Linked DNA regions of Homo sapiens. The protein of the gene in region 2 interacts with the protein of the main gene of each other region in a pairwise test. Each region holds a gene or a part of one and is shown on either strand. Other genes may lie near its edges.

The links.
Region 1: the proteins of ING5 (region 2) and NAV2 interact in binary tests that used the Homo sapiens proteins (3 or more experiments, as listed by UniProt).
Region 3: the proteins of ING5 (region 2) and ODF2 interact in binary tests that used the Homo sapiens proteins (3 or more experiments, as listed by UniProt).

The regions. Positions count from the first base shown.
Region 1 is NC_000011.10:19,707,912-19,715,863, reverse strand, and holds the start of NAV2 (neuron navigator 2), read right to left. Parts: upstream 3,028-7,952; 5' UTR 2,169-3,027; coding exon 1,902-2,168; exon of another isoform or gene 1,192-1,901; intron 1-1,191. UniProt on the Homo sapiens protein: Possesses 3' to 5' helicase activity and exonuclease activity. Involved in neuronal development, specifically in the development of different sensory organs.
Region 2 is NC_000002.12:241,726,039-241,730,008, reverse strand, and holds the end of ING5 (inhibitor of growth protein 5), read right to left. Parts: 3' UTR 531-3,970; downstream 1-530. UniProt on the Homo sapiens protein: Component of the HBO1 complex, which specifically mediates acetylation of histone H3 at 'Lys-14' (H3K14ac) and, to a lower extent, acetylation of histone H4. Component of the MOZ/MORF complex which has a histone H3 acetyltransferase activity.
Region 3 is NC_000009.12:128,452,058-128,459,032, reverse strand, and holds the start of ODF2 (outer dense fiber protein 2), read right to left. Parts: upstream 3,028-6,975; 5' UTR 2,942-3,027; coding exon 2,778-2,941; intron 2,602-2,777; exon of another isoform or gene 2,489-2,601; coding exon of another isoform or gene 2,457-2,488; intron 2,098-2,456; exon of another isoform or gene 1,970-2,097; intron 1,836-1,969; exon of another isoform or gene 1,628-1,835; coding exon of another isoform or gene 1,596-1,627; intron 1-1,595. UniProt on the Homo sapiens protein: Seems to be a major component of sperm tail outer dense fibers (ODF).

The sequences.
Region 1 (7,952 bases), on a different chromosome or scaffold from region 2:
TCCTTAGCAGTCCATCCAAACTATGTTCACCATCAGTACACAAGGGCCCATTGAGGGCGAGAGAGGTGAAATGGGGGGATTATGGACCAAGGGCAAAAGAGGGAAGCAAAGTCTTGAGGGAAGTGGACTGTTCCAGCCCCTCAGAGAGAAGCTGAAGAACATTTTTTTTCACGGACAGGGTGATGAATCACCTTTCCAGAGCCTATGCACTGCCAGTCCTCTGACAATGTTTGTTAAATGAAGGGTCAAACGGGCAAAGGCAGAACAGCTGCCTGGATATGAACAATCCCAGCATGGACTTTCCCTCTCATTCCTCGGGTGCTCCTCATCAGGCTCGAGGGTATGTGTCACCTCCAGTCCCGAGTCACTGTACTGACCTCCCACCGACTGCCCACTACACCTCATAAACCCCAAGTCCATGGATGAAGGGAAACCCCATGCAGAAGTGTACCCTGGTGCTCACCCCCATGGCAGAGCCCACTGGACAAATCCTGTACGTAACAACAGAAGAAGAGCAGAGCACAAAACCCTCACAGAGGCAGGCCCCCGGAGCACTGGAGGAAATCTTGCCTTCCTCCCACACACCATCACTCAAACCTGTCAGCTTCCAAAAATGTTTAGCAAGTGCAGCAGCAAGGGGCATGCTTATCAGCCTGGTGTGGGAGCTTAATCTGCTTTGAGGGCCTTCTCCAGCCCAGAGTTCCAAAAGTCTGCTTACAATTAGCTTCAGCTCCAGTTCCCGCATCAGAAAGCCTAGGAACGTGTTGAGCTCTAGCCTCTGATCAGAGAAAGCTCCAGGAGAAGGTGGAGATGGTGTCAGCAGGGAAGTATGTGCCAAAAAGGTCAGCTGGTCTGTTGCCATTTTCCTGACACCAGCCCCAAACCACCTCCCCTCTGGCTTCCCGCCTCTCCTAACCGGACAGTCACATCCGTCAGGTCGGCCTGTCCCCAAAAGTCCCTGCTGACTGACTGCCAAGAAAATATAGCCCCCTCCTACCAGAAGAAGGGGGAAATGGAGCGGGGAGGACCAAGAGAACCTGATTGGCCCTTGCTAATTTCTGTAAAAGAGATTGCACGGCCAGGGCTTGTCTGGATGCAGGCTCTGTCTGGAAAGGTAGGAGTCACCAATTCTCTTCAAGCCATCTCCCATCCCCACGCCCCGTCACTCGGGCTACCAACACCAGGATCTACCACCCAGGAAGGAGGGGCTTAGCTTCGGCCGCCATTCTGAGGCAGCCACCTCCACCCCCACCCCCACCGCAACAGCCAGCCAAGGCGCTAGGAGTCTCCAGCTGCCGGCCTCAGCTGGTGCACTAGTACCGCAGTCCCAGCACCTTGCCCGGAATCCCGTCACCCCGCAGGATGGGGCAGGGACAGGTCATCTTCAAGCCAAGGGAAGAGCAGGTTCACTGCCACCCGCGATCCCCTTTTCTTCCTGGATCTTACAGCCAGGCTAGGGGGCGTCGAACCCAATGGGGCCTTAGATCATTCCTTGTCCGGAACAGAATCTCTGCGGAACCGCCAGACAGACACACAGCTGCTGCTGCGGATACTGGCTTCTTGGGGCCAAGACCTCAACATGCAGGACCTCACATTTCCAGCGATGCACACGTTTTTTGAGAACATCCCGACCTTTCCTCCTCCCCAGGAAGATGCTGCAGACGTGCCCGCCATCCCAGGTCTCGAAGAGCTCTTAAGGCAAACCTCCGGCACCCGGGCCACACCCACCGGCCGGCCCACTCTCCTCGCGCATCCCCCAACCTGCCGGCCTAAGGGGAATGGTTCCCTTCCCTGGCCACATGGTAGACCCTTCTCCCATCCAGCCCTTTCTCCCACACCATCCCGAAAGAACTATTCATCCATCCTTCCAGAACAGTACCCCGGCAAACGGCATCTCTCACCTGGGTATCGAACCCGTTTTCCACCGAGCCGCTCTTCCGCAGCGGGAGCCCCTCCCCCGCTGGCTCCTGCAGCCCCTGCAGCACCTGCGATTTCAGGGGGATCTGGCTAGGATAGGTGGTCTTGCTCACCTCCACCTTGCTTCCCAACTTCAGGTAGCAGGGCTGGGGGCCCGCCCGGGCCGGGGGCACGTGCAGGATGGGCGCGGCGCTGTGCACGGGTTTGGGCAGTCCCGACTTCATTTTGGAGGCGACCAGGATGGCCGGCATCTTCTCCCGGGGCTTGGGCTTTCCCAGCACGTCCCTGGCAGCGGCGGCGGGGGCGACCGCTAAAGGCAGCGCGGGTAGCAGAGCAGGCGCCGGGCCTTAGCCCACGAGGCGCCCACCACCAGCGGCTAAAAAAAAAATCCCCAGGTCGGGGAACTCGAAGCAATCGGGCGAGCGCGCCTTTGGGGTGCCGGGATGGGAATGGGGGACTGGCCACGGCGCTCAGCGGGTCCCACCTGGACGGATGCTGCCGCCGGGTCTCACACCTCTCCTGGGTGGCCTTTCAAGAGCTCTGGGCGCTCAGGGGCTGCCGCCTCTTGCAAATTTCCTCCTGGGAAACAGAGGCTTGGACGCCCATATTAACTTGTCACTGCATCTCCGAAGTGAGGAGGCCCCTTTGGAAGAGACAGAGGCGGCGGCGACCCACGAGTCCCGTTCCGGAGGCTACGGGTCTGAGCCGGCGAGAGAAAGAGCGAGCAGCCAAGGAAGGAAAGGAGACAGCAGCGAAGGAAGGAGAGAAGAAGGGCGCAAGGGTCCCAAGACGTCTCCACCGAGAGGCAGCTGCCACCCTGCTCGCGAGCACCGCAGTGTCACCCGCGACGCAGCAGAGGTGCGGCAAGAGCCCCCGAAAGGTCTCTCTTGGGGTGACAGTCACCGCTGCCCAGAAGGCCCCCGGACTGAGAGCACCTTAGCGCCTGCGGGTCTGCACATGCTCCGTGAGCTAGATAGAGGCAAGGCTGTGGCCGTGGGGCGCGGGCGCCGGGACGCGCGGCTGGCGGGCCGGGCAGGGCTGCGCTCGGGAGCGGCCGCCGCGCTTCCCGGGAAGGCTGCGCTGGCTGCGGGGCTCAGCGCAGGGGAGGACAGGCTGCTGCCGGCGCTGCTGCGGCGCGCGCTGACAGCCGGGGCCGCCCCGGCGCGCCCATTGGTCCACGGTGCGCCAATCAGCGGCCGCGGGTCTCACTGCAAAGAGGGTGTGGCCTAAACTCTGGCCGCCGCCGAAACTCTGGGGCCGCGCTTGGCCGCGAGTACAAAGCGGGCTGGTGGCCGCTTTGCGGCACTGCCCCGGCCGCGCGCCTCCCGGGGGGCCCACACCCCTGCGTTCCTGAAACCCTTCTTTTGAAAAATGCCCTTTCGAACGCAACCGTCCGCCCCAGAGCCACGCGGGCACGGCTCGAGGGAAGTTTGTTTCCTTTTTCAAATTGCTCCGGTCACCTTAACGGTTTGAGTCTTCCGGAGTCACGCCCGCAGCCTCGCTGCCCCCATCTGGCTTGGGCAGGGCCGAAGCTCGTCTCCCGCTTTAAGAGCGCGCCAGCCATTTCTCTGCCTGCTCTTCCAGGCCGGCTGGGCGGGGGGCCTCCCAACGGCTTCCTCTCCAGTTTTCAAAGGCTGCACATTTCACTTAACTATTTGAAGTATTTATAGGCAAATACAATACGCAGGGAAGCTTCCCGCCCCGAGACAGCTCCTCCACGCAACCTACCACAGACTCTGTAATTAGAGTGGCCTGAAGAAGCCGGGAGAGGCTCCATGACCCCGGCAGGCTCTGGCCAAACCTTGCTGCGTTTCATGGAGCCCCTCCCTGTCCGCGCCTGGGACGCACTGGCCCCAACAGGTTCCTCGACTCGAATTCGCTGTTTGGGTTGCTCTGTGGTTTCCTCGCTGACTGAAAGTGGATGAGAATAAGAAGGAAACTGAGAGATGATCAGGCAGGCCAGCCTTCGCGATTTATGAATGAGGAGCCTCCCACCCTGTAGAACTGCTTGGATTAGAAGTGGGCAAGTTATTTAAGCTTACATGCATGCTTATAAAGCTTCTGTTTTCACATGTAGTAAGGTGGAGGCTTGACGACATTTACCTAATGAGCTGTTGTTTGGATTAAATGAGATGGTTGGTGCATGGCAGTCATTTAGCACAAGTACCTGGCAATGTAAGAGACCAATAAAAGCTGGGCTTTATTTTCCCTGTTGTTAAATTACTGCTGCTTTCCCCCAAAGTCATCTCTGTTTATAAACTATTTGTCTTTCTTCTTTGTTTCCAGGACACTTTGTGCCCACCCTATAGCCTGATCTTCAGTGCTGATAGCATTGATTTAGAATAACTCAGATGCTATTAACTCTGTCCCCCTGGAATTCATGTTAAACCCGTAATCCCCAGTGTGATGGTATTAGGAGGTGGGGAACTTTAGGAGGTAATAAGGTCAAGACAGTGGAGCCCTCATGATAGGATTAGCACTCTTATTAGAAGAGACAGGAGAGAGATGCTTTCTTACTGCCTTGTGAGGACACAGAAGGCAGTCTTCTGTGGACCAGGAAGAGGGCCCTTACCAAGAATCTGATACCGTGTTGGCATCCTAGTCTCAGACTTCCAGCCTCTAGTACTGTAAGAAATAAATGTTTGTTGTTTAAGCCATCCTGTTTATGGTATTTTTGTTATAGTGGCCCAAAGTGACAAAGATCTCAGACCAGAGGAAACATCAAAGTCTTAACCTCTGAAGCATTAAGAAATGAGAAGGCACCTTCTTAGCCATTCTAGGTAGCAACTTTCTACTCTAGTTAGGCTGAAATGCACGGCCCTGTCTATGTCTGTTTCAGTTATCCTCCCTCTCTCTGAAATCAAGTCACACATCATTCATGCTACTTACTTAACACTTTGCCCTTTGCCATCTGATGCCACCTCCCGTACTATTGTCTCCCATTATTTAACCTGTTATTTATTGTTTCATGCATTCATTTTCATCTTAGAGAATAAACATCTTGGAATTAGGAGCTGTGTTTTAACTTTCTTTAGATCTTCTCAGTATGGAGCATAAAGCTGTGGACAGAATAGCTACCCAACATTTATACTGAATGAATGATTGAATGATGCTAGAAGAAGGAGAGATTGTCTTTTAGATTTAGGAACATAAGGACATACGAAATATTATGCTATAAACCTTGGGACTCTTTTGCCTGCCCTGAATTCTAGTTCTGACCAGTGTACCAAGATTTGTGGAAAGATATCACAATCTTCAGCTTCTAAAGATCAGGGAGATATTCCAAAGTATTCCCATGGCCCTAATGCAGTGGTTCTCAAAGTGTGGTCCCTGGAGCTGCAGAAGCATTACCTGGAAACTTGTTTGAAAGCTCCACCCAGACCTATTGAATCAAAAGCCCTGGGGATGGGGCCCAGCAATCTGTGTTTCAACAGTGTTCAACCTAGTGATTATGATGCATACTAAAACTTGAGATATTCTGCCCTAATGAATATATCATGCATTCAGTGCATCTCCAGAACTTCTTAAACCTTAATATGCCTAAGAATCACTGGGGATCTTGCTAAAATACAGATTCAGATTCAGTTGGTCTAGAATGGGGCTGAGATTCTGCTTTCCGAGTAAGTTCTCATGTCATGCACATGCTGGTGTTCTAAAGATCACGCTTTGAGTAGCACAGACAGCAGGAGGATTTCATCTTAAGGGCCATCTACTGAAAAGGATCTCAGAGTGCATCCATCTAGTTGGAAATAGCCGCCTGATCACTTGATAATGTCTGCTATGGGTATATAAATGGAAATAGTGAAATACATATTATGTATTTGCCATCTTTGGTTTCCTGTTTAAATTGTATTTACTGCCAAGGTCATTTCGGGGTTCTGAGACCCTCAAATATGCATAAATATGAACAACAGTATTTCTTTTAAAGTATTTCTAATGTTCTAGGATTGGTAAACATGAGCATTTCCCTTAACCCTGTGTGTTTTATATAACTAAATTCTGATAATTCTTCATTTTTCTTGATGAAAGATCTTTCACTTGAGGACAAGTGAATCTTTTAGTCTGTTTCCAAATTTCTTTCTTTTCCTGCCTCTTCTTCCCTTTAGTAATTCTATTTGCTTTTTCCTGGAGCATTATTTATCTCCTTTTTTTTTGTGACCGAGTTTTGCTCTAATTTCCCAGGCTGGAAGCTGGAGTGCAATGGCGCGATCTTGGCTCACTGCAGCTGGGATTACAGGCGCATGCCACCACACCCGGCTAATTTTTGTATTTTTAGTAGAGACGGGGTTTCGTCATATTGGTCAGGCTGGTCTGGAACTCCAGACCTCAAGTGATCCACCTGCCTTGGCCTCCCAAAGATTCATCTCCTTTTATATCTTTTTTTTTTTTTTTTTTTTTTTGAGACGGAGTCTCACTCTGCTGCCCAGGCTGGAGTGCAGTGGCACGATATTGGCTCACTACCCAGGAAGCTCCGCCTCCTGGGTACACCCCATTCTCCTGCCTCAGCCTCCTGAGTAGCTGGGACTACAGGCACCCGCCACCATGCCCAGCTAATTTTTTGTATTTTTAGTAGAGACGGGGTTCCACCATGTTAGCCAGGATGGTCTCGACCTCCTGACCTCGTGATTCGCCCGCCTTGGCCTCCCAAAGTGCTGGGATTACAGGCGTGAGCCACCGTGCCTGGCCCTATCTCCTTTTAGATATTTTCTATAAACGTTCATTTTTCTTATTTAAAGCAAAATAATTTATCATAATAACCAGACAAGGGTGGGGCGGGGGGAAGCTATTTTTTCTCCTAGGATAAATGAGATAATTATAAGTTTCTTACTTAAATAAGATAATCTCAAATTATAAAAACGGCCTATAAGTTTACTCCTTCCACACTGATACTGTGTTAACATGAAAAACGTCATTTTAAATCAATGTTTTGCAAGCATTGGAGGCTAACGCAAGTCACTGGTTTGGAGAATGGCAAGCTGCTCTGGAAAGAATACACTATCCAGGTATTAAAATAACTTTTTTCTTTTTTTCTTTTTTTTTTTTTTTTACTATATGCATTATGGACAAGTATGCCAAGTTGAAATGGCCCACCATTTTAAATTCCAACTTTGACAACCATTCTTTATTTTTCTTCTGGCTCAGAACTTGCAGAATCACCCAAATGTCAGTGATAGGCCAAATTGAAACGTATTATCAAAGCTCTCAGGTCCACTGAATCATCCTAAGAGACTGGATAGTTCCCTGGTTCTAAGAGCCATCCTCAGATCAGGAAGTGCCAGCTGCACCCCTCTCTGCTCCTCAACGTCAGCCACTTGTGATTAGTTGAGTGTGAATTGGGCTTCAGACCTGACCTGTGAGTGACCAGTTCCATCAACCCATCCTTCATCTTAGTTAAAGACCCCTGTTGGCCTGACCTCCCAAGAAGACAGTCCGGTGAAGAGCCTGGAACATCTAAGGCCCAGCCTGTCACAAAAAAATGCAGGGATCTTGGGGGGAAAAGTCTACAGCCTTTTGGAGACCCTAGATTATACATGATGAGGGGAAATGTTGCAAAGTTTCTTGAATAATATAAAAAGCAAAATATTTATGAGTTTATTTGGGAGTAAAAAAAATGCACTTTTCCTTAATTTTCTACAAATGGGTTGGCAACTTATGAGACATCTCCGAGATGGCACAAAGGCTCACCTTTTAGTAGTGGCTGAGTTGAGAGGCCACCCATCTCATACTGCAGAGAAGTGAGGTAAGAACCTTAAGACATCTCTTTGGAAAGTCTGCTCATCTACTCACCCTATCAGTGACTCACTTCCAATCTCAAACTTTCTTCCAGATGGGTCTGTGTGCAAATCAGTATGCCCAATGGTAACCTCTGGGGCTTTTTTTCTGAGAACAAAGGCTGAGGGTTCCCCTACCTGCAGAAGCTAGAGTGTGAGGGGTATGTATGTGTGTATGTGTGTTTATAGGCATTTGAGTCAATGACCCAGACTAAATGTCAAATAAATATAGTCACGCACTGCATAATGATGTTTTGGTCAATG
Region 2 (3,970 bases):
CCTTTCACTTGGCTCTCATTTTCTATTGTCTGCTGCCATGTAAGATAAGCCTTTCGTCTCCCGCCATGATTGTGAGGCCTCCCCAGCCATGTGGAACTGAGGGTCCACCAGACCTCTTTTTCTGTCAGGTGCGGTGGCTCACGCCTGTAATCCCAACACTTTGGGAGGCTGAGGCAGGCAGATCACCTGAGGTCAGGAGTTCAAGACCAGCTTGGCCAACATGGCAAAACCCCATCTCTACTAAAAATACAAAAATTAGCAGGGCGTGGTGGCACGTGCCTGTAGTCCCAGCTACTCAGGAGGCTGAGGCAGGAGAATCACCTGAACCCGGGAGGCAGATGTTACAGTGAGCCGAAATCATGCAGTGCCATTGCACTCCAGCCTGGGTGACAGAGCAAGACTCCGTCTCAAAAAAAGAGAAAAGAAAATTTTTTTTAAAAAAAACCTCTTTTTCTTTACAAATTACCCAATCTCGGGTATGTCTTTATCAGCAGCGTGAAAACGGGCTAATACAGATGCACTTTCAATTGTTTGTTCCAAAAAATACTTTATTTATTAAACAATATATCCATAATCTATAACATGATCCAAAAATACTGATATACATCTTTACATTATCTAATAAAAAGATTTACAACATTATCTTTCCTTTACAAAGGGAACATAGATAATAATTCCTTGAAAATAAAAATGTAACATTCATGTTAAAGCTGCATCATCGTTTTGGATGAAACGTGGTTAAAGGTGGACACCACAAAATACATACAGAGGAAGAAAGAAACTCCAACACAATCTCTCCTGAATGGGAACATTTTCTTACACTTCCCCTGGCTTAAAATTCCTCTCAGCACAAGTATTGAAGGCCAATCACTGCTCACTAAAAATTTAAGAAAACCTTAAGTCTTCAATGCCCATAATTAACATCCCTCACGGTTTTACTCTAAACCATGAAGACCTAACCTAGGACAGGGCAGACCCTCGGCTCTGGGGTCATGTGGGAAGCTGCTCTGGGCCAGCGTCATTGCTCAAAGCAGCCCCAGCCAGGGCTCCCAACGACAGGACAGGAGGCCAAGTCCGGCAGGGCTGCTGGACACCAGACAAGCTGGCCGGTGTCCCCATCAGTCCCAGCAAACCCTCCCACCGCCACCAGTCTGCACAGCTGCTTCTCGCTGCTCCAGGCAGACTGGAAAACACCCACGCCACAAAGCCCTGGCCAACAGTGAGACGGGCGGTCAGCTGCTGCTCAGGCAGCCACGTAGGCCTCCGCACGGCGTCCCTGGCCAACAGTGGTCTCATGTCCACCCGCCCAGGGGTCCCGTCCAGCATGAGACGGGCGGTCAGCTGCTGCTCAGGAGGCCACGCAGGCCTCCGCTTGGCATCCATGTCCCCAGCAGCAGCACCTAGGGCACATTCGCAGATGCAGAGGGCTCGGTTTCACCAGCTCCTGTTTTCACTGCAGCCTGCCTTCCCCTACAGGATTTCCTCAGATCACTGACTGATACCGCAGCACTGAAAACAAGGAAAATGGGTAGAACGCTCCTTCCCATCGAGGTCAATCGCACAGCCACAGAGGACCCACACCTTCGGCTCAGATGAAGCTGCCACAGTGACCCACTGGTTCCAGCCCACACACCCTCAATCCAAGAGATGGGTCTGGGGCCGGGCAGCTGTGGAGGGGGGTCTGGTCCGAGACCAAATCCTTGAATCACCCCCAGGGAGAAGGCGGCCAGGCCTTCTGGAGCAAGGCGTGGATGGTGCAAATGGTGTGGCTTCTGTGTCCCTGCAGGGCGGGGGCCAGGCCAGGGGCCATGACCTTCTTTTCTGGCCAAACGGCCACTCCTGAGTGTGTCTCTCCCACGGGTAGACAGCGTCAGCCACAGAGCACTCAGGATTCAGTTGGGTCCAAACTACAGCCCAAGGAATTGTCTCATTCTGCTCATGTTTTCTATGTTTCTTCCAAAACTCTATGCATATTATTTTGGTGATATTATTGTAAGTGGCAAAAGTAAACATTAAAAACACTAAGCACAGAAACTTGAAAAGAAAAGGTCAAAATTCAATACCTGGGATGGTGCACAGTGGCAGGCAGGACCACATCATCACGTGTCAGACAAAAGCGTCCCACAGGGAAGCCAGTCATCTTTCCCCAAAAAGCAGCGAGACCTCAGGAAGCCGGGCAGCCAAAAGCATCAACAACCCCAGCGCTTTCCAGGGGTAGCCACAGGTGTGAACAGCTCAAAGGTGGAGCGCAATATCAAATTCATTTCTGAAAAATTGCCAGGCGCTGTTTCAGCACAAACTCCCTGCACTTACCTATCCCTCTTCCCAAAAATGGTAAAAGAGAGAAAAACATTTTCCACAATGTATCCTCCACGATCAATAAACATCTGTGTTGGCCGGGTGCGGTGGCTCATGCCTGTCATCCCAGCACTTTGGGAGGTCGAGGCGGGTGGATCACTTCAGGTCAGGAGTTCGAGACCAGCCTGGCCACACATGGTGAAACCCCATTTCTACTAAAAATACAAAAATTAGCTGGGCGTGGTGGTGGACGCCTATAATCCCAGCTGCTCGGGAGGCTAAGGCAAGAGAATCACTTGAACCCAGGAAGCAGAGGTTGCAGTGAGCCAAGATGGTGCCATTGCATTCCAGCCTGGGTGACAGAGCAAAACTCCGTTTCAAAAACACAAAACAAAAAACAAAACACACACACACACACACACACAAAACCTGTGCTAACAAAAAGTTAAGTCATTAAATGAAAATTCATCTCCCAGCTGAGCGCAGTGGCTGACACCTGTAATCCCAGCACTCTGGGAAGCCGACGCAGGCGGATCATTTGACCCCAGGAGTTTGAGACCAGTCTGGCCAATATGGTGAAACCCCGTCTCCAACAAAAATACAAACTTAGCTGGGTGGCCAGGCGCGGTGGCTCACGCCTGTAATCCCAGCACTCTGGGAAGCCGAGGCGGGCAAATCGTGAGGTCAGGAGATCGAGACCATCCTGGTTAACATGGTGAAACCCTGTCTCTACTAAAAATATAAAAAATTAGCCAGGCGTGGTGGCGGGCGCCTGTAGTCCCAGCTACTCGGGGGGGCTGAGGCAGGAGAATGGCGTGAACCCGGGAGGCGGAGCTTGCAGTGAGCCGAGATCACGCCACTGCTCTCCAGCCTGGGTGACAGAGCAAGACTCCGTCTCAAAAAAAAAAATTAACATACAAAACCCACCCATCTCCAGTTTCACAGCCGTGGCGAAGGGTGTGAAGCACTGTAGCCTGCCCTCTCTGGCGCTTTCCCTTCTAAGCCGCAGGAAGGCACCGCTTGGAGGGAGCCCCTTCAGGCCCAGACACTGGCAGGGACGAGCAGCAGCAGTGGCCGACCGCCCGCCTGCACCTGCCTGGCACCTGCGCCCGGAGGATCCACTCCCACCCACACCCTCGGAAAAGGACAGGTGGCCCAGAGGCATCCGTGTGTTCAAGAACCGCAGAACATGAATGTGGACACCATCCCAACCAGGACTGTTCAGGGTGTTCTTGTTCTCTTGTTCTCACTCACTGACTACCAGCTTCTCGACGGGAGGGCCCCGTCTGAGACACAGAGCTTCACACGTTCCTTCTGCTTTATTTCCTCTCCCTAGTGAAACATTAAACACAGGAGGAAAAGATACAGATGTAGCCATCAGAAGGAAGTGAGGCTGTCATTCCAAATGGCCCCCCACCATGAAGAAACCCAGGCTTCTTAAATCAGGAACCTCACGTCTCAGTTTTCCCTCAGGTTTCTTTCTGTGGTGTGAGGACAGAAACAGGCGTCCCTGCATTCCTCAGCAATCCTCTCCTTCCTCTAAAGGCACGGGAGAGGATTTCCGAGCGCCTGCGATGCTGTGGGGAACCGCAGGCTGGGCACCGTCACCAACGCGTCACAACAGAGCAAATCTGCATAGCCTTCCCCAACTACCACCGAAAGGATGGCTCCG
Region 3 (6,975 bases), on a different chromosome or scaffold from region 2:
TCTCTACAAAACATACAAAAATTAGCTTGGCGTGGTGGCGTGTGTCTGTAGTCCCAGCTACTCGGGAGGCTGAGGTGGGAGAATCAATTAAGCCTGGGAGGTGGAGGCTGCAGTGAGCCGTAACCACGCCACTGCACTCCAGCCTAGGTGGCAGAGGGAGACCCCGTTTCAAAACAACAACAAAAAAGAAAAAAAAATTTTTTCAAAGAGCATTAGGCTCAGGCACGAGAGGTCACTGTGACGCACACTCATCAAATTAAGGCTCAAATATTCCCCTAAGAGAATAAAAAAGTATCTAGTTCCCAAAATATTCCACTTGCTATCCTTTAAGCTCTCAAGCAGCAGGGGATTTTTTTTTAATGCCATGTCTAATTCACCTTGCTTACACATATACTGTACAGCTCCATCACCAGATCTGCAAAGACAGCCAAATAAAAAAAAAAAAAAGAGAGAGAGCAAAAGTCTATTTGCTCCAAAATCTTTCAGCAGTATATCCAAAAAGTCCAGGATGGGAAGGGCCTTGGAATAACCATCTGATCCATCTCCTGGCCTTTTTTTTTTTTTTTTTTTTGAGATAGAGTCTCGCTCTGTCGCCCAGGCTGGAGTGCAGTGGCCCAATCTTGGCTTACTGCAACCTCTGCCTCCTGGCTTCAAGCAATTCTCCAATTCTCCTGCCCCAGGCTCCTGAGTAGCTGGGATTACAGGCGTGTGCCACCATGCCCAGCTAATTTTTTATGTTTCTAGTAAAGACGGGGTTTCACCATGTTGGTCAGGCTGGTCTCAAACTCCTGACCTCAGGTGATCCACCCACCTTGGCCTCTCAAAGTGCTAGGATTGCACAGGCATGAGCCACCGCACCTGGCCCCCCAAAGTGGGGGGAGATCAGAGAGGCTGGAGCGACCAGGGGGTGGCAGGGAGGGTGGGGCAGAGACAGGGAGGTCCAAAATTATCATCTTGCCCTCTTTACAAACACTTGGGGAAAATAATGCAACATCAAAATGCAAGGAAAAAAATACTTGAGCACTTTGGTATGCGTTTTGCTGTATATGTATTACATCGTGATTTTAAAAAGAGGGGAAAAAAAAAAAATATATATATATATATAGACCTCTACTGATCCTTTAGCCAAGGAATACCAAAACTGAGAAGACAGGCTTTTTTCCCTAATCATTTAGAACATTGTTCACGTAAAGCCAATAGCTTTGGGAAATCTCTCAGTGGGTTTCTTGTCAAACCACCTGGATTCCATTATCTTGCTAACTGCCACATCCACCTCCTACGTGTTATTTATTTACACCTCGACTCCCTTCAAAAAGGCTCTGAACCTAGTACTCTATTATATAAAGACAACAAGAGTGACCCTGTTTGCTTCCAGGAAGCTGTGACATCTGGGGAGGGAAGGAGCGAGGGAGGTAGAGCTAGGATTGTGTATACATTTCGTTCCCCCTTCCCTTTAAAAACGATTTTTAAACGTTTTGGTCCAGACTTTCAGCAAACACAATGAGGAAGCTGGAAGCCTCAGGCGAGCCTGCCCTGGGGACCCCTGGCCACCTTTCCCTGCCCTCCGGCGCAGGCGCCTCCCACATCGGCAATACCTGGGGGAGCCGCCTGAGGATGAGGCAGACATGGCTAGGCATCAAAGCCGCAAAGGTGGGCAATTGGGTCAGCAGGCTCTGCTCAGGGGGACCCAGAGGGGCAGGCTTGTCAATGAGCCTCTCAAGGGGCCCGGCATCAAACGTCCTCTCTGAGGGGAGAAGGGTGGAAGCTTTGGGGTTGGCAGTTGGATGAAAACTTGGGAGGCGCTCCTCTACTGTCCAAGTCGCACAGCAACTGTCCTGCCAAAGTAGGGGGAAATAGTAGAGGCTGAGCGACCTGGGGGCAGAGGGGAGGAAGGGGAGGGGACGGGGCAGAACCGCGAGGGAAAGGACCACCGCGCCCGGGTCCCACGCGGAGGACTGCCGGTGGCTACCGGGGGAAACCTGAGGCGCCGGCGGACGTGCGGAGAGGGCGGGTGAGAACCGCTCGGCCCCAAGTGGGCCCCAGAGGGCCAGAACCGCGCAGGGAGCCGCGGGGATGCTGGGGCGGGGCCGGACAACTGTCTCCTAGGAGAAGGGGCGTTACGGAAGAACAGATGCCCGAGAGGACCAATAGTGTTTAAAGGAGGGAGGCGCGGAGGTTGCACGGGCCCCGGGCGCCCCGCCGCGAGGGAAAACCGAACAGAGTTCTGAGCAGGATAGACGCCGGGCTGGGAGGGGGCGGGCGGGACCCCCCCCCGCCGGGCGAGGGCCCTGGCAAGCCGGAGACGGTGCCCGGGGGACAGCGCTGCCTACGGAGGGCGTACAAGTGACTGCCATGTGGAGGCCCGAGGAGAGGACGAGGCGGTCGGGGCGATGCCGCCGACGGGCAGCAGAGCGAGGGAGAGCCTCTGTCGGCGGAGAGAAGGGACGGCCACCCACCAGCAGGCAGGAGGGTACCGGTTTCTGCCCATAGAGAGAAAGGTGAAGCCCTGCCCGCGGGCGGCAGAGGAGGGGCAGAGCCCCGTGGTAGCCAAGAGAGGAAGGAGGCGGCCGACCGCCCGTTAGCGGGAGGAGGAGAGGCCCCGCGCCGGTGGGCGGGGCGGGGGCCCAGGTTCTGACAGGAGGGGGACGAGCGCAACGCGGCGGGGAACCCAGGACCCGACGGCCCCGCGGGGTCGACCGCGCCGGGGGTGCGAAGGCGACGGTCTCGCCCGCGGTGCCCCGGAGGGCGCTGGATCCCGCCTGCCGGCGGCCTCTCACCAGGAGCGACACGGCTGCGCCCAGAAACGCCGCCTTATGAAGTCGTTGAAGTCGGAGGCCAGGGTCGTGCCATGGAGACGCCGCGGCGGATGCAGTCTGGCTCTGGCAGCGGCTCCTCCCCGCTTCCGCCTCCTTTTCCGACACCCGGTCGGCAGCTCGCCCATTGGCCAGTTCAAACCCCCCCGGGAGCCGCTTGGGTTTCGCCATCGAGGCCCAGCCCCTAGCGTCACAGAGATGCCCCGCCCCGCCAGAAGGGCCGCCCACTTCCGGGCCACGCGTCCCGTCACCAAGGAGACGTGCTACGCGTCCAGCGGGCCTGGCCGGGTCTCGCCCCCCATTCAAGGCCTTTCCCGCTCGGCCCTGTTTCCCCTGCCTTGGATCCTCCCGGATTCCCCTCACTCAAAGGAGCGTACGGTTCCGACGCCCTCCCCTCGGTACCCACCAGGAAACTAGGCTCACAGAGGACCCATGGAACTAGTTATTGGGAGCTGCACACTGCCTCCGAAAATCCAGCCCTGCCCCTAGTCCACTATTAATGCGGAGATGGAGTCGGCTTCTGCGCATTCCCCGGCCTCTCCCCTGCCCACATCGCCTCTGTCTTGGCCCCAACAGGAGAAAGGGTCGGCATTCCCCTTGCTGTTCTGTTCACTACCTTCCTGCACTTTTTTTTTTTTTTTTTTTTTTTTTTTTTTTTTTTTTTTTGAGACAGATTCTTGCTCTGTTGCCCAGGCTGGAGTGCAGTGGCGCGATCTCGGCTCACCGCAACCTCCGCCTCCCGGGTTCACGCCATTCTCCTGCCTGAGCCTCCCGAGTAACTGGGACTACTGGCGCCCGCCACAACGCCCGGCTAATTTTTTTTTGTATTTTTAGTAGAGACGGGGTTTCACCGTGTTGGGCAGGATAGTCTCCATCTCCTGACCTCATGATCCACCCGCCTCGGCCTTCCAAAGTGCTTGTATTACAGGCTTGAGCCTCCGCGCCCGGTCTACTACCCTCCTGCACTCTCTATGCCGCTCTGTGTACAGACCTATTCTGATGAGGTCCTTGCTGGTCCGCCATCTTCTCAATTATGCTTCACTGTCAGCCAGTCAGGGGAGGTCTGTCACGTGGCTCATAATGCCGCCCTGGAATCTGGGAGACCTGAACCACCTCCGGGCCAACTGGGCCACAGTCCCTTGACCTTTCTCCAGTGACCCCGCAGCACCTTAGCCACACAGCTCCAGGGTCACACAAGTGTTTCACCTGCAATCCTAAAGTCAGACTCGCAAACAAAACCTGCTTTTCCGCCTCGCTTTCACAGTATACTGCATACTGAATTTGTTCTGTAATGTCAGGGAGCTCCCCAATCCCTTGATCCATTCATTGTCTCTCTGTTGAATAATTGATAGATTTCCTAATCCTCATTAACCATTTAAGACTGCGGTGGCTCACGCCTGTAGTCCCAGCACTTTGGGAGGCTGAGGCAGGCGGATCACCTAAGGTCAGAAGTTCAAGACCAGACTGCCCAACATAGCGAAACCCCGTCTCTACTAAAAATACAAAAATTAACCGGGCATGGTGGTGTGTGCCTGTAATCCCAGCTACTAGGGAGGAGGAGGCAGGGAGAATTCCTTGAACCTGGAAGGCGGAGGTTGCAGTGAGCCAAAATCACCACTACACTTCAGCCTGGGTGACAGAGTGAGACTCTTGTCTCAAAAAAAAAAAAAAAAAAAAAAAAGTATATACAGGTTCAAGGAAAAGAGGACAGGAAAAGGAGGTCCCGGTCCTCCTGGGGCAGGCAGGAGATGGTTCCCAGAGGTGATGGTATTGGAACTGAGCCATGAAAGGTGAGTGGAAGTTCGCCAAACAAGCAGCAAAGGGAATTCTAAACAGACTGCAGTAGGTACACAGGTACCACATGCAGGTACAAGAGAATACTGCATATTCTATGAAGCATCATCACTGCAGTCCCTTGAAGTGTTACAGGGCCAGCGATGAGAGAAATCCTGCCAAAGTCAGCAGGACCAGACTATGCAGCGTCTGATAGGCCAGCCTAAGGTGTTGGACTTCATCCCTCAGAAGCCTGGAAAACCATGAGAGGGTTTTCAGTATTTCACTCTAGGCTGGGCGCTGTGGCTCACACCTGTAATCCCAGCACTTTGGGAGGCCGAGGCAGGTTGATCACTTGAGGTCAAGAATTTGAGACCAGCCTGGCCAACGTGGTGAAACCCCGTCTCTACTAAAAGTACAAAAATTAGCTGGGCGTGGCAGCCGGCGACTATAGTCCCAGCTACTCAGGAGGCTGAGGCAGGAGAATCACTTAAACCCAGGAGGTAGAGGTTACAGTGAGCCAAGATTGCACCACTGCACTCCAGCCTGGGCGACAGAGCGCGACGCCATCTCAAAAAAAAAAAAAAAAAATAGTGGCCAAGCGCAAAGTGGCTCAAGCCTGTAATACCAGCACTTTGAGAGGTTGAGGCAGGCAGATCACCTGAGGTCAGGAGTTCCAGACCAGCCTGGCAGACATGTGGAAACCTCATCTCTACTAAAAATACAAAAATTATCCGGGCGTGGTGGTGCATGCCTGTAATCCCAGCTACTCAGGAGGCTGAGGCATGAGAATTGCATGAACCTGGAAGGCAGAGGTTGCCATGAGCCAAGATTGCAACACTGCACTCCACCCTGGAGGATAGAGCGAGACTCCATCTCCAAAAATGTGGAGCATGGATTGGAAAGACAAGAAAGCATGTAGAGAGAGGAGGCCTTTGCAATATTAACTGTAAACAAAATTTGGGGGTCAGGGGTGGCAGACGTGGTGGCTCATGCCTGTAATCCCAGCACTTTGGGAGACTGAGGTGGGAGGATTACCTGAGCTCAGGAGTTTGAGAGCAGCCTGAGCAACATGGGGAGGCCCAATCTCTTAAAAAAAAAAAAGGCGGGGGGCTGGGCACGGTGTCTCACGTCTGTAATCCCAGCACTTTGGGAGGCCGAGGCAGGCAGATGACTTGAGGTCAGGAGTTCCAGACCAGCCTGGCCAATGGGCGAAACCCCATCTCTACTAAAAATACAAAAAAATTAGCCAGGCATGGTGGCGGGCACCTGTAATCCCAGCTACTCGGGAGGCTGAGACAGGAGAACTGCGCTAACCCGGAAGGCAGAGGTTGCAGTGAGCAGGGATCCCGCCACTGCACTCCAGTCTGGACGACACAGTGAGACTCCATCTCAAAAAAAAAAAAAAAAAAAAAAATCACCGGGCATGGTGGCTCATGCCTGTAATCTCAGCACTTTTGGAGGCTGAGGTGGGAGGATTGCTTGAAACCTGGAGTTTCAAACCAGCCTGGGCGACATAGGGGACACCATCTCTACAAAACATTTTTAAAAGTTAGCCGGGCATGGTGGCACATGCCTGTAGTTCCAGCTACTTAGGAGGCTGAGGTGGGAGGGTCACTTGAGCCTGGGAGTTCAAGACTGCAGTGAGCCGTGATTGTGCCACTGTACTCAAGCCTGGGTGAAATAGTGAGACTCTATCTCAAAAAATAAACATAAATAAATAAACATAAATAAATATACACATTTTTATACATACATATTATATGTAATATACCCAGGCTAGAGTGCAGTGGCATGATTACAGCTCACTGCAACCTCAAGCTCCTGAGCTCCAACGATCCTCCCTCCTCAGCCTCTTGAGTAGCTAAGACTGCTGGTGCGGGTCACCAAGCCCGACTAATTTTTTTTTTTTTTTTTTGAGACCGTCTCACTATGTTTCCCAGGCTGGTCTCTAACTCCTGGTCTCAAGTGATTCTCCCACCTCCCGAGGAGGTGCATCAGTCTCCCAAGTAGCTGGGATTACAAGGACAAGCCACTGCACCTGGTTGTAATATAAACTTGTATGAGATTGCTCTGTCACTGCCTGCTGGCCACCCCAGTGTCCCCACTCGACCATGGATTCCTTGTGGACTAGGGTGACATCACAGTCATTTCTGTATCTCCAGTAGCCAAACCAACCTGTAAACGGTAGACAATCAACAAAAAAAATGTTGAATGAATGTATGGATTAATAATACTATTAATAATGCCACCTAGTACATTAAGTGGGAGGGAGGTAGTATTCACGGGAAGGGAGGTAGCATTCCAGAGAATGCCCTGGGTACCCCTTGTAGACCTCACCCCCTCCCTGCAGGAGAGGACGTTAGCCAAGCAGCATCCCAGCTCCCAA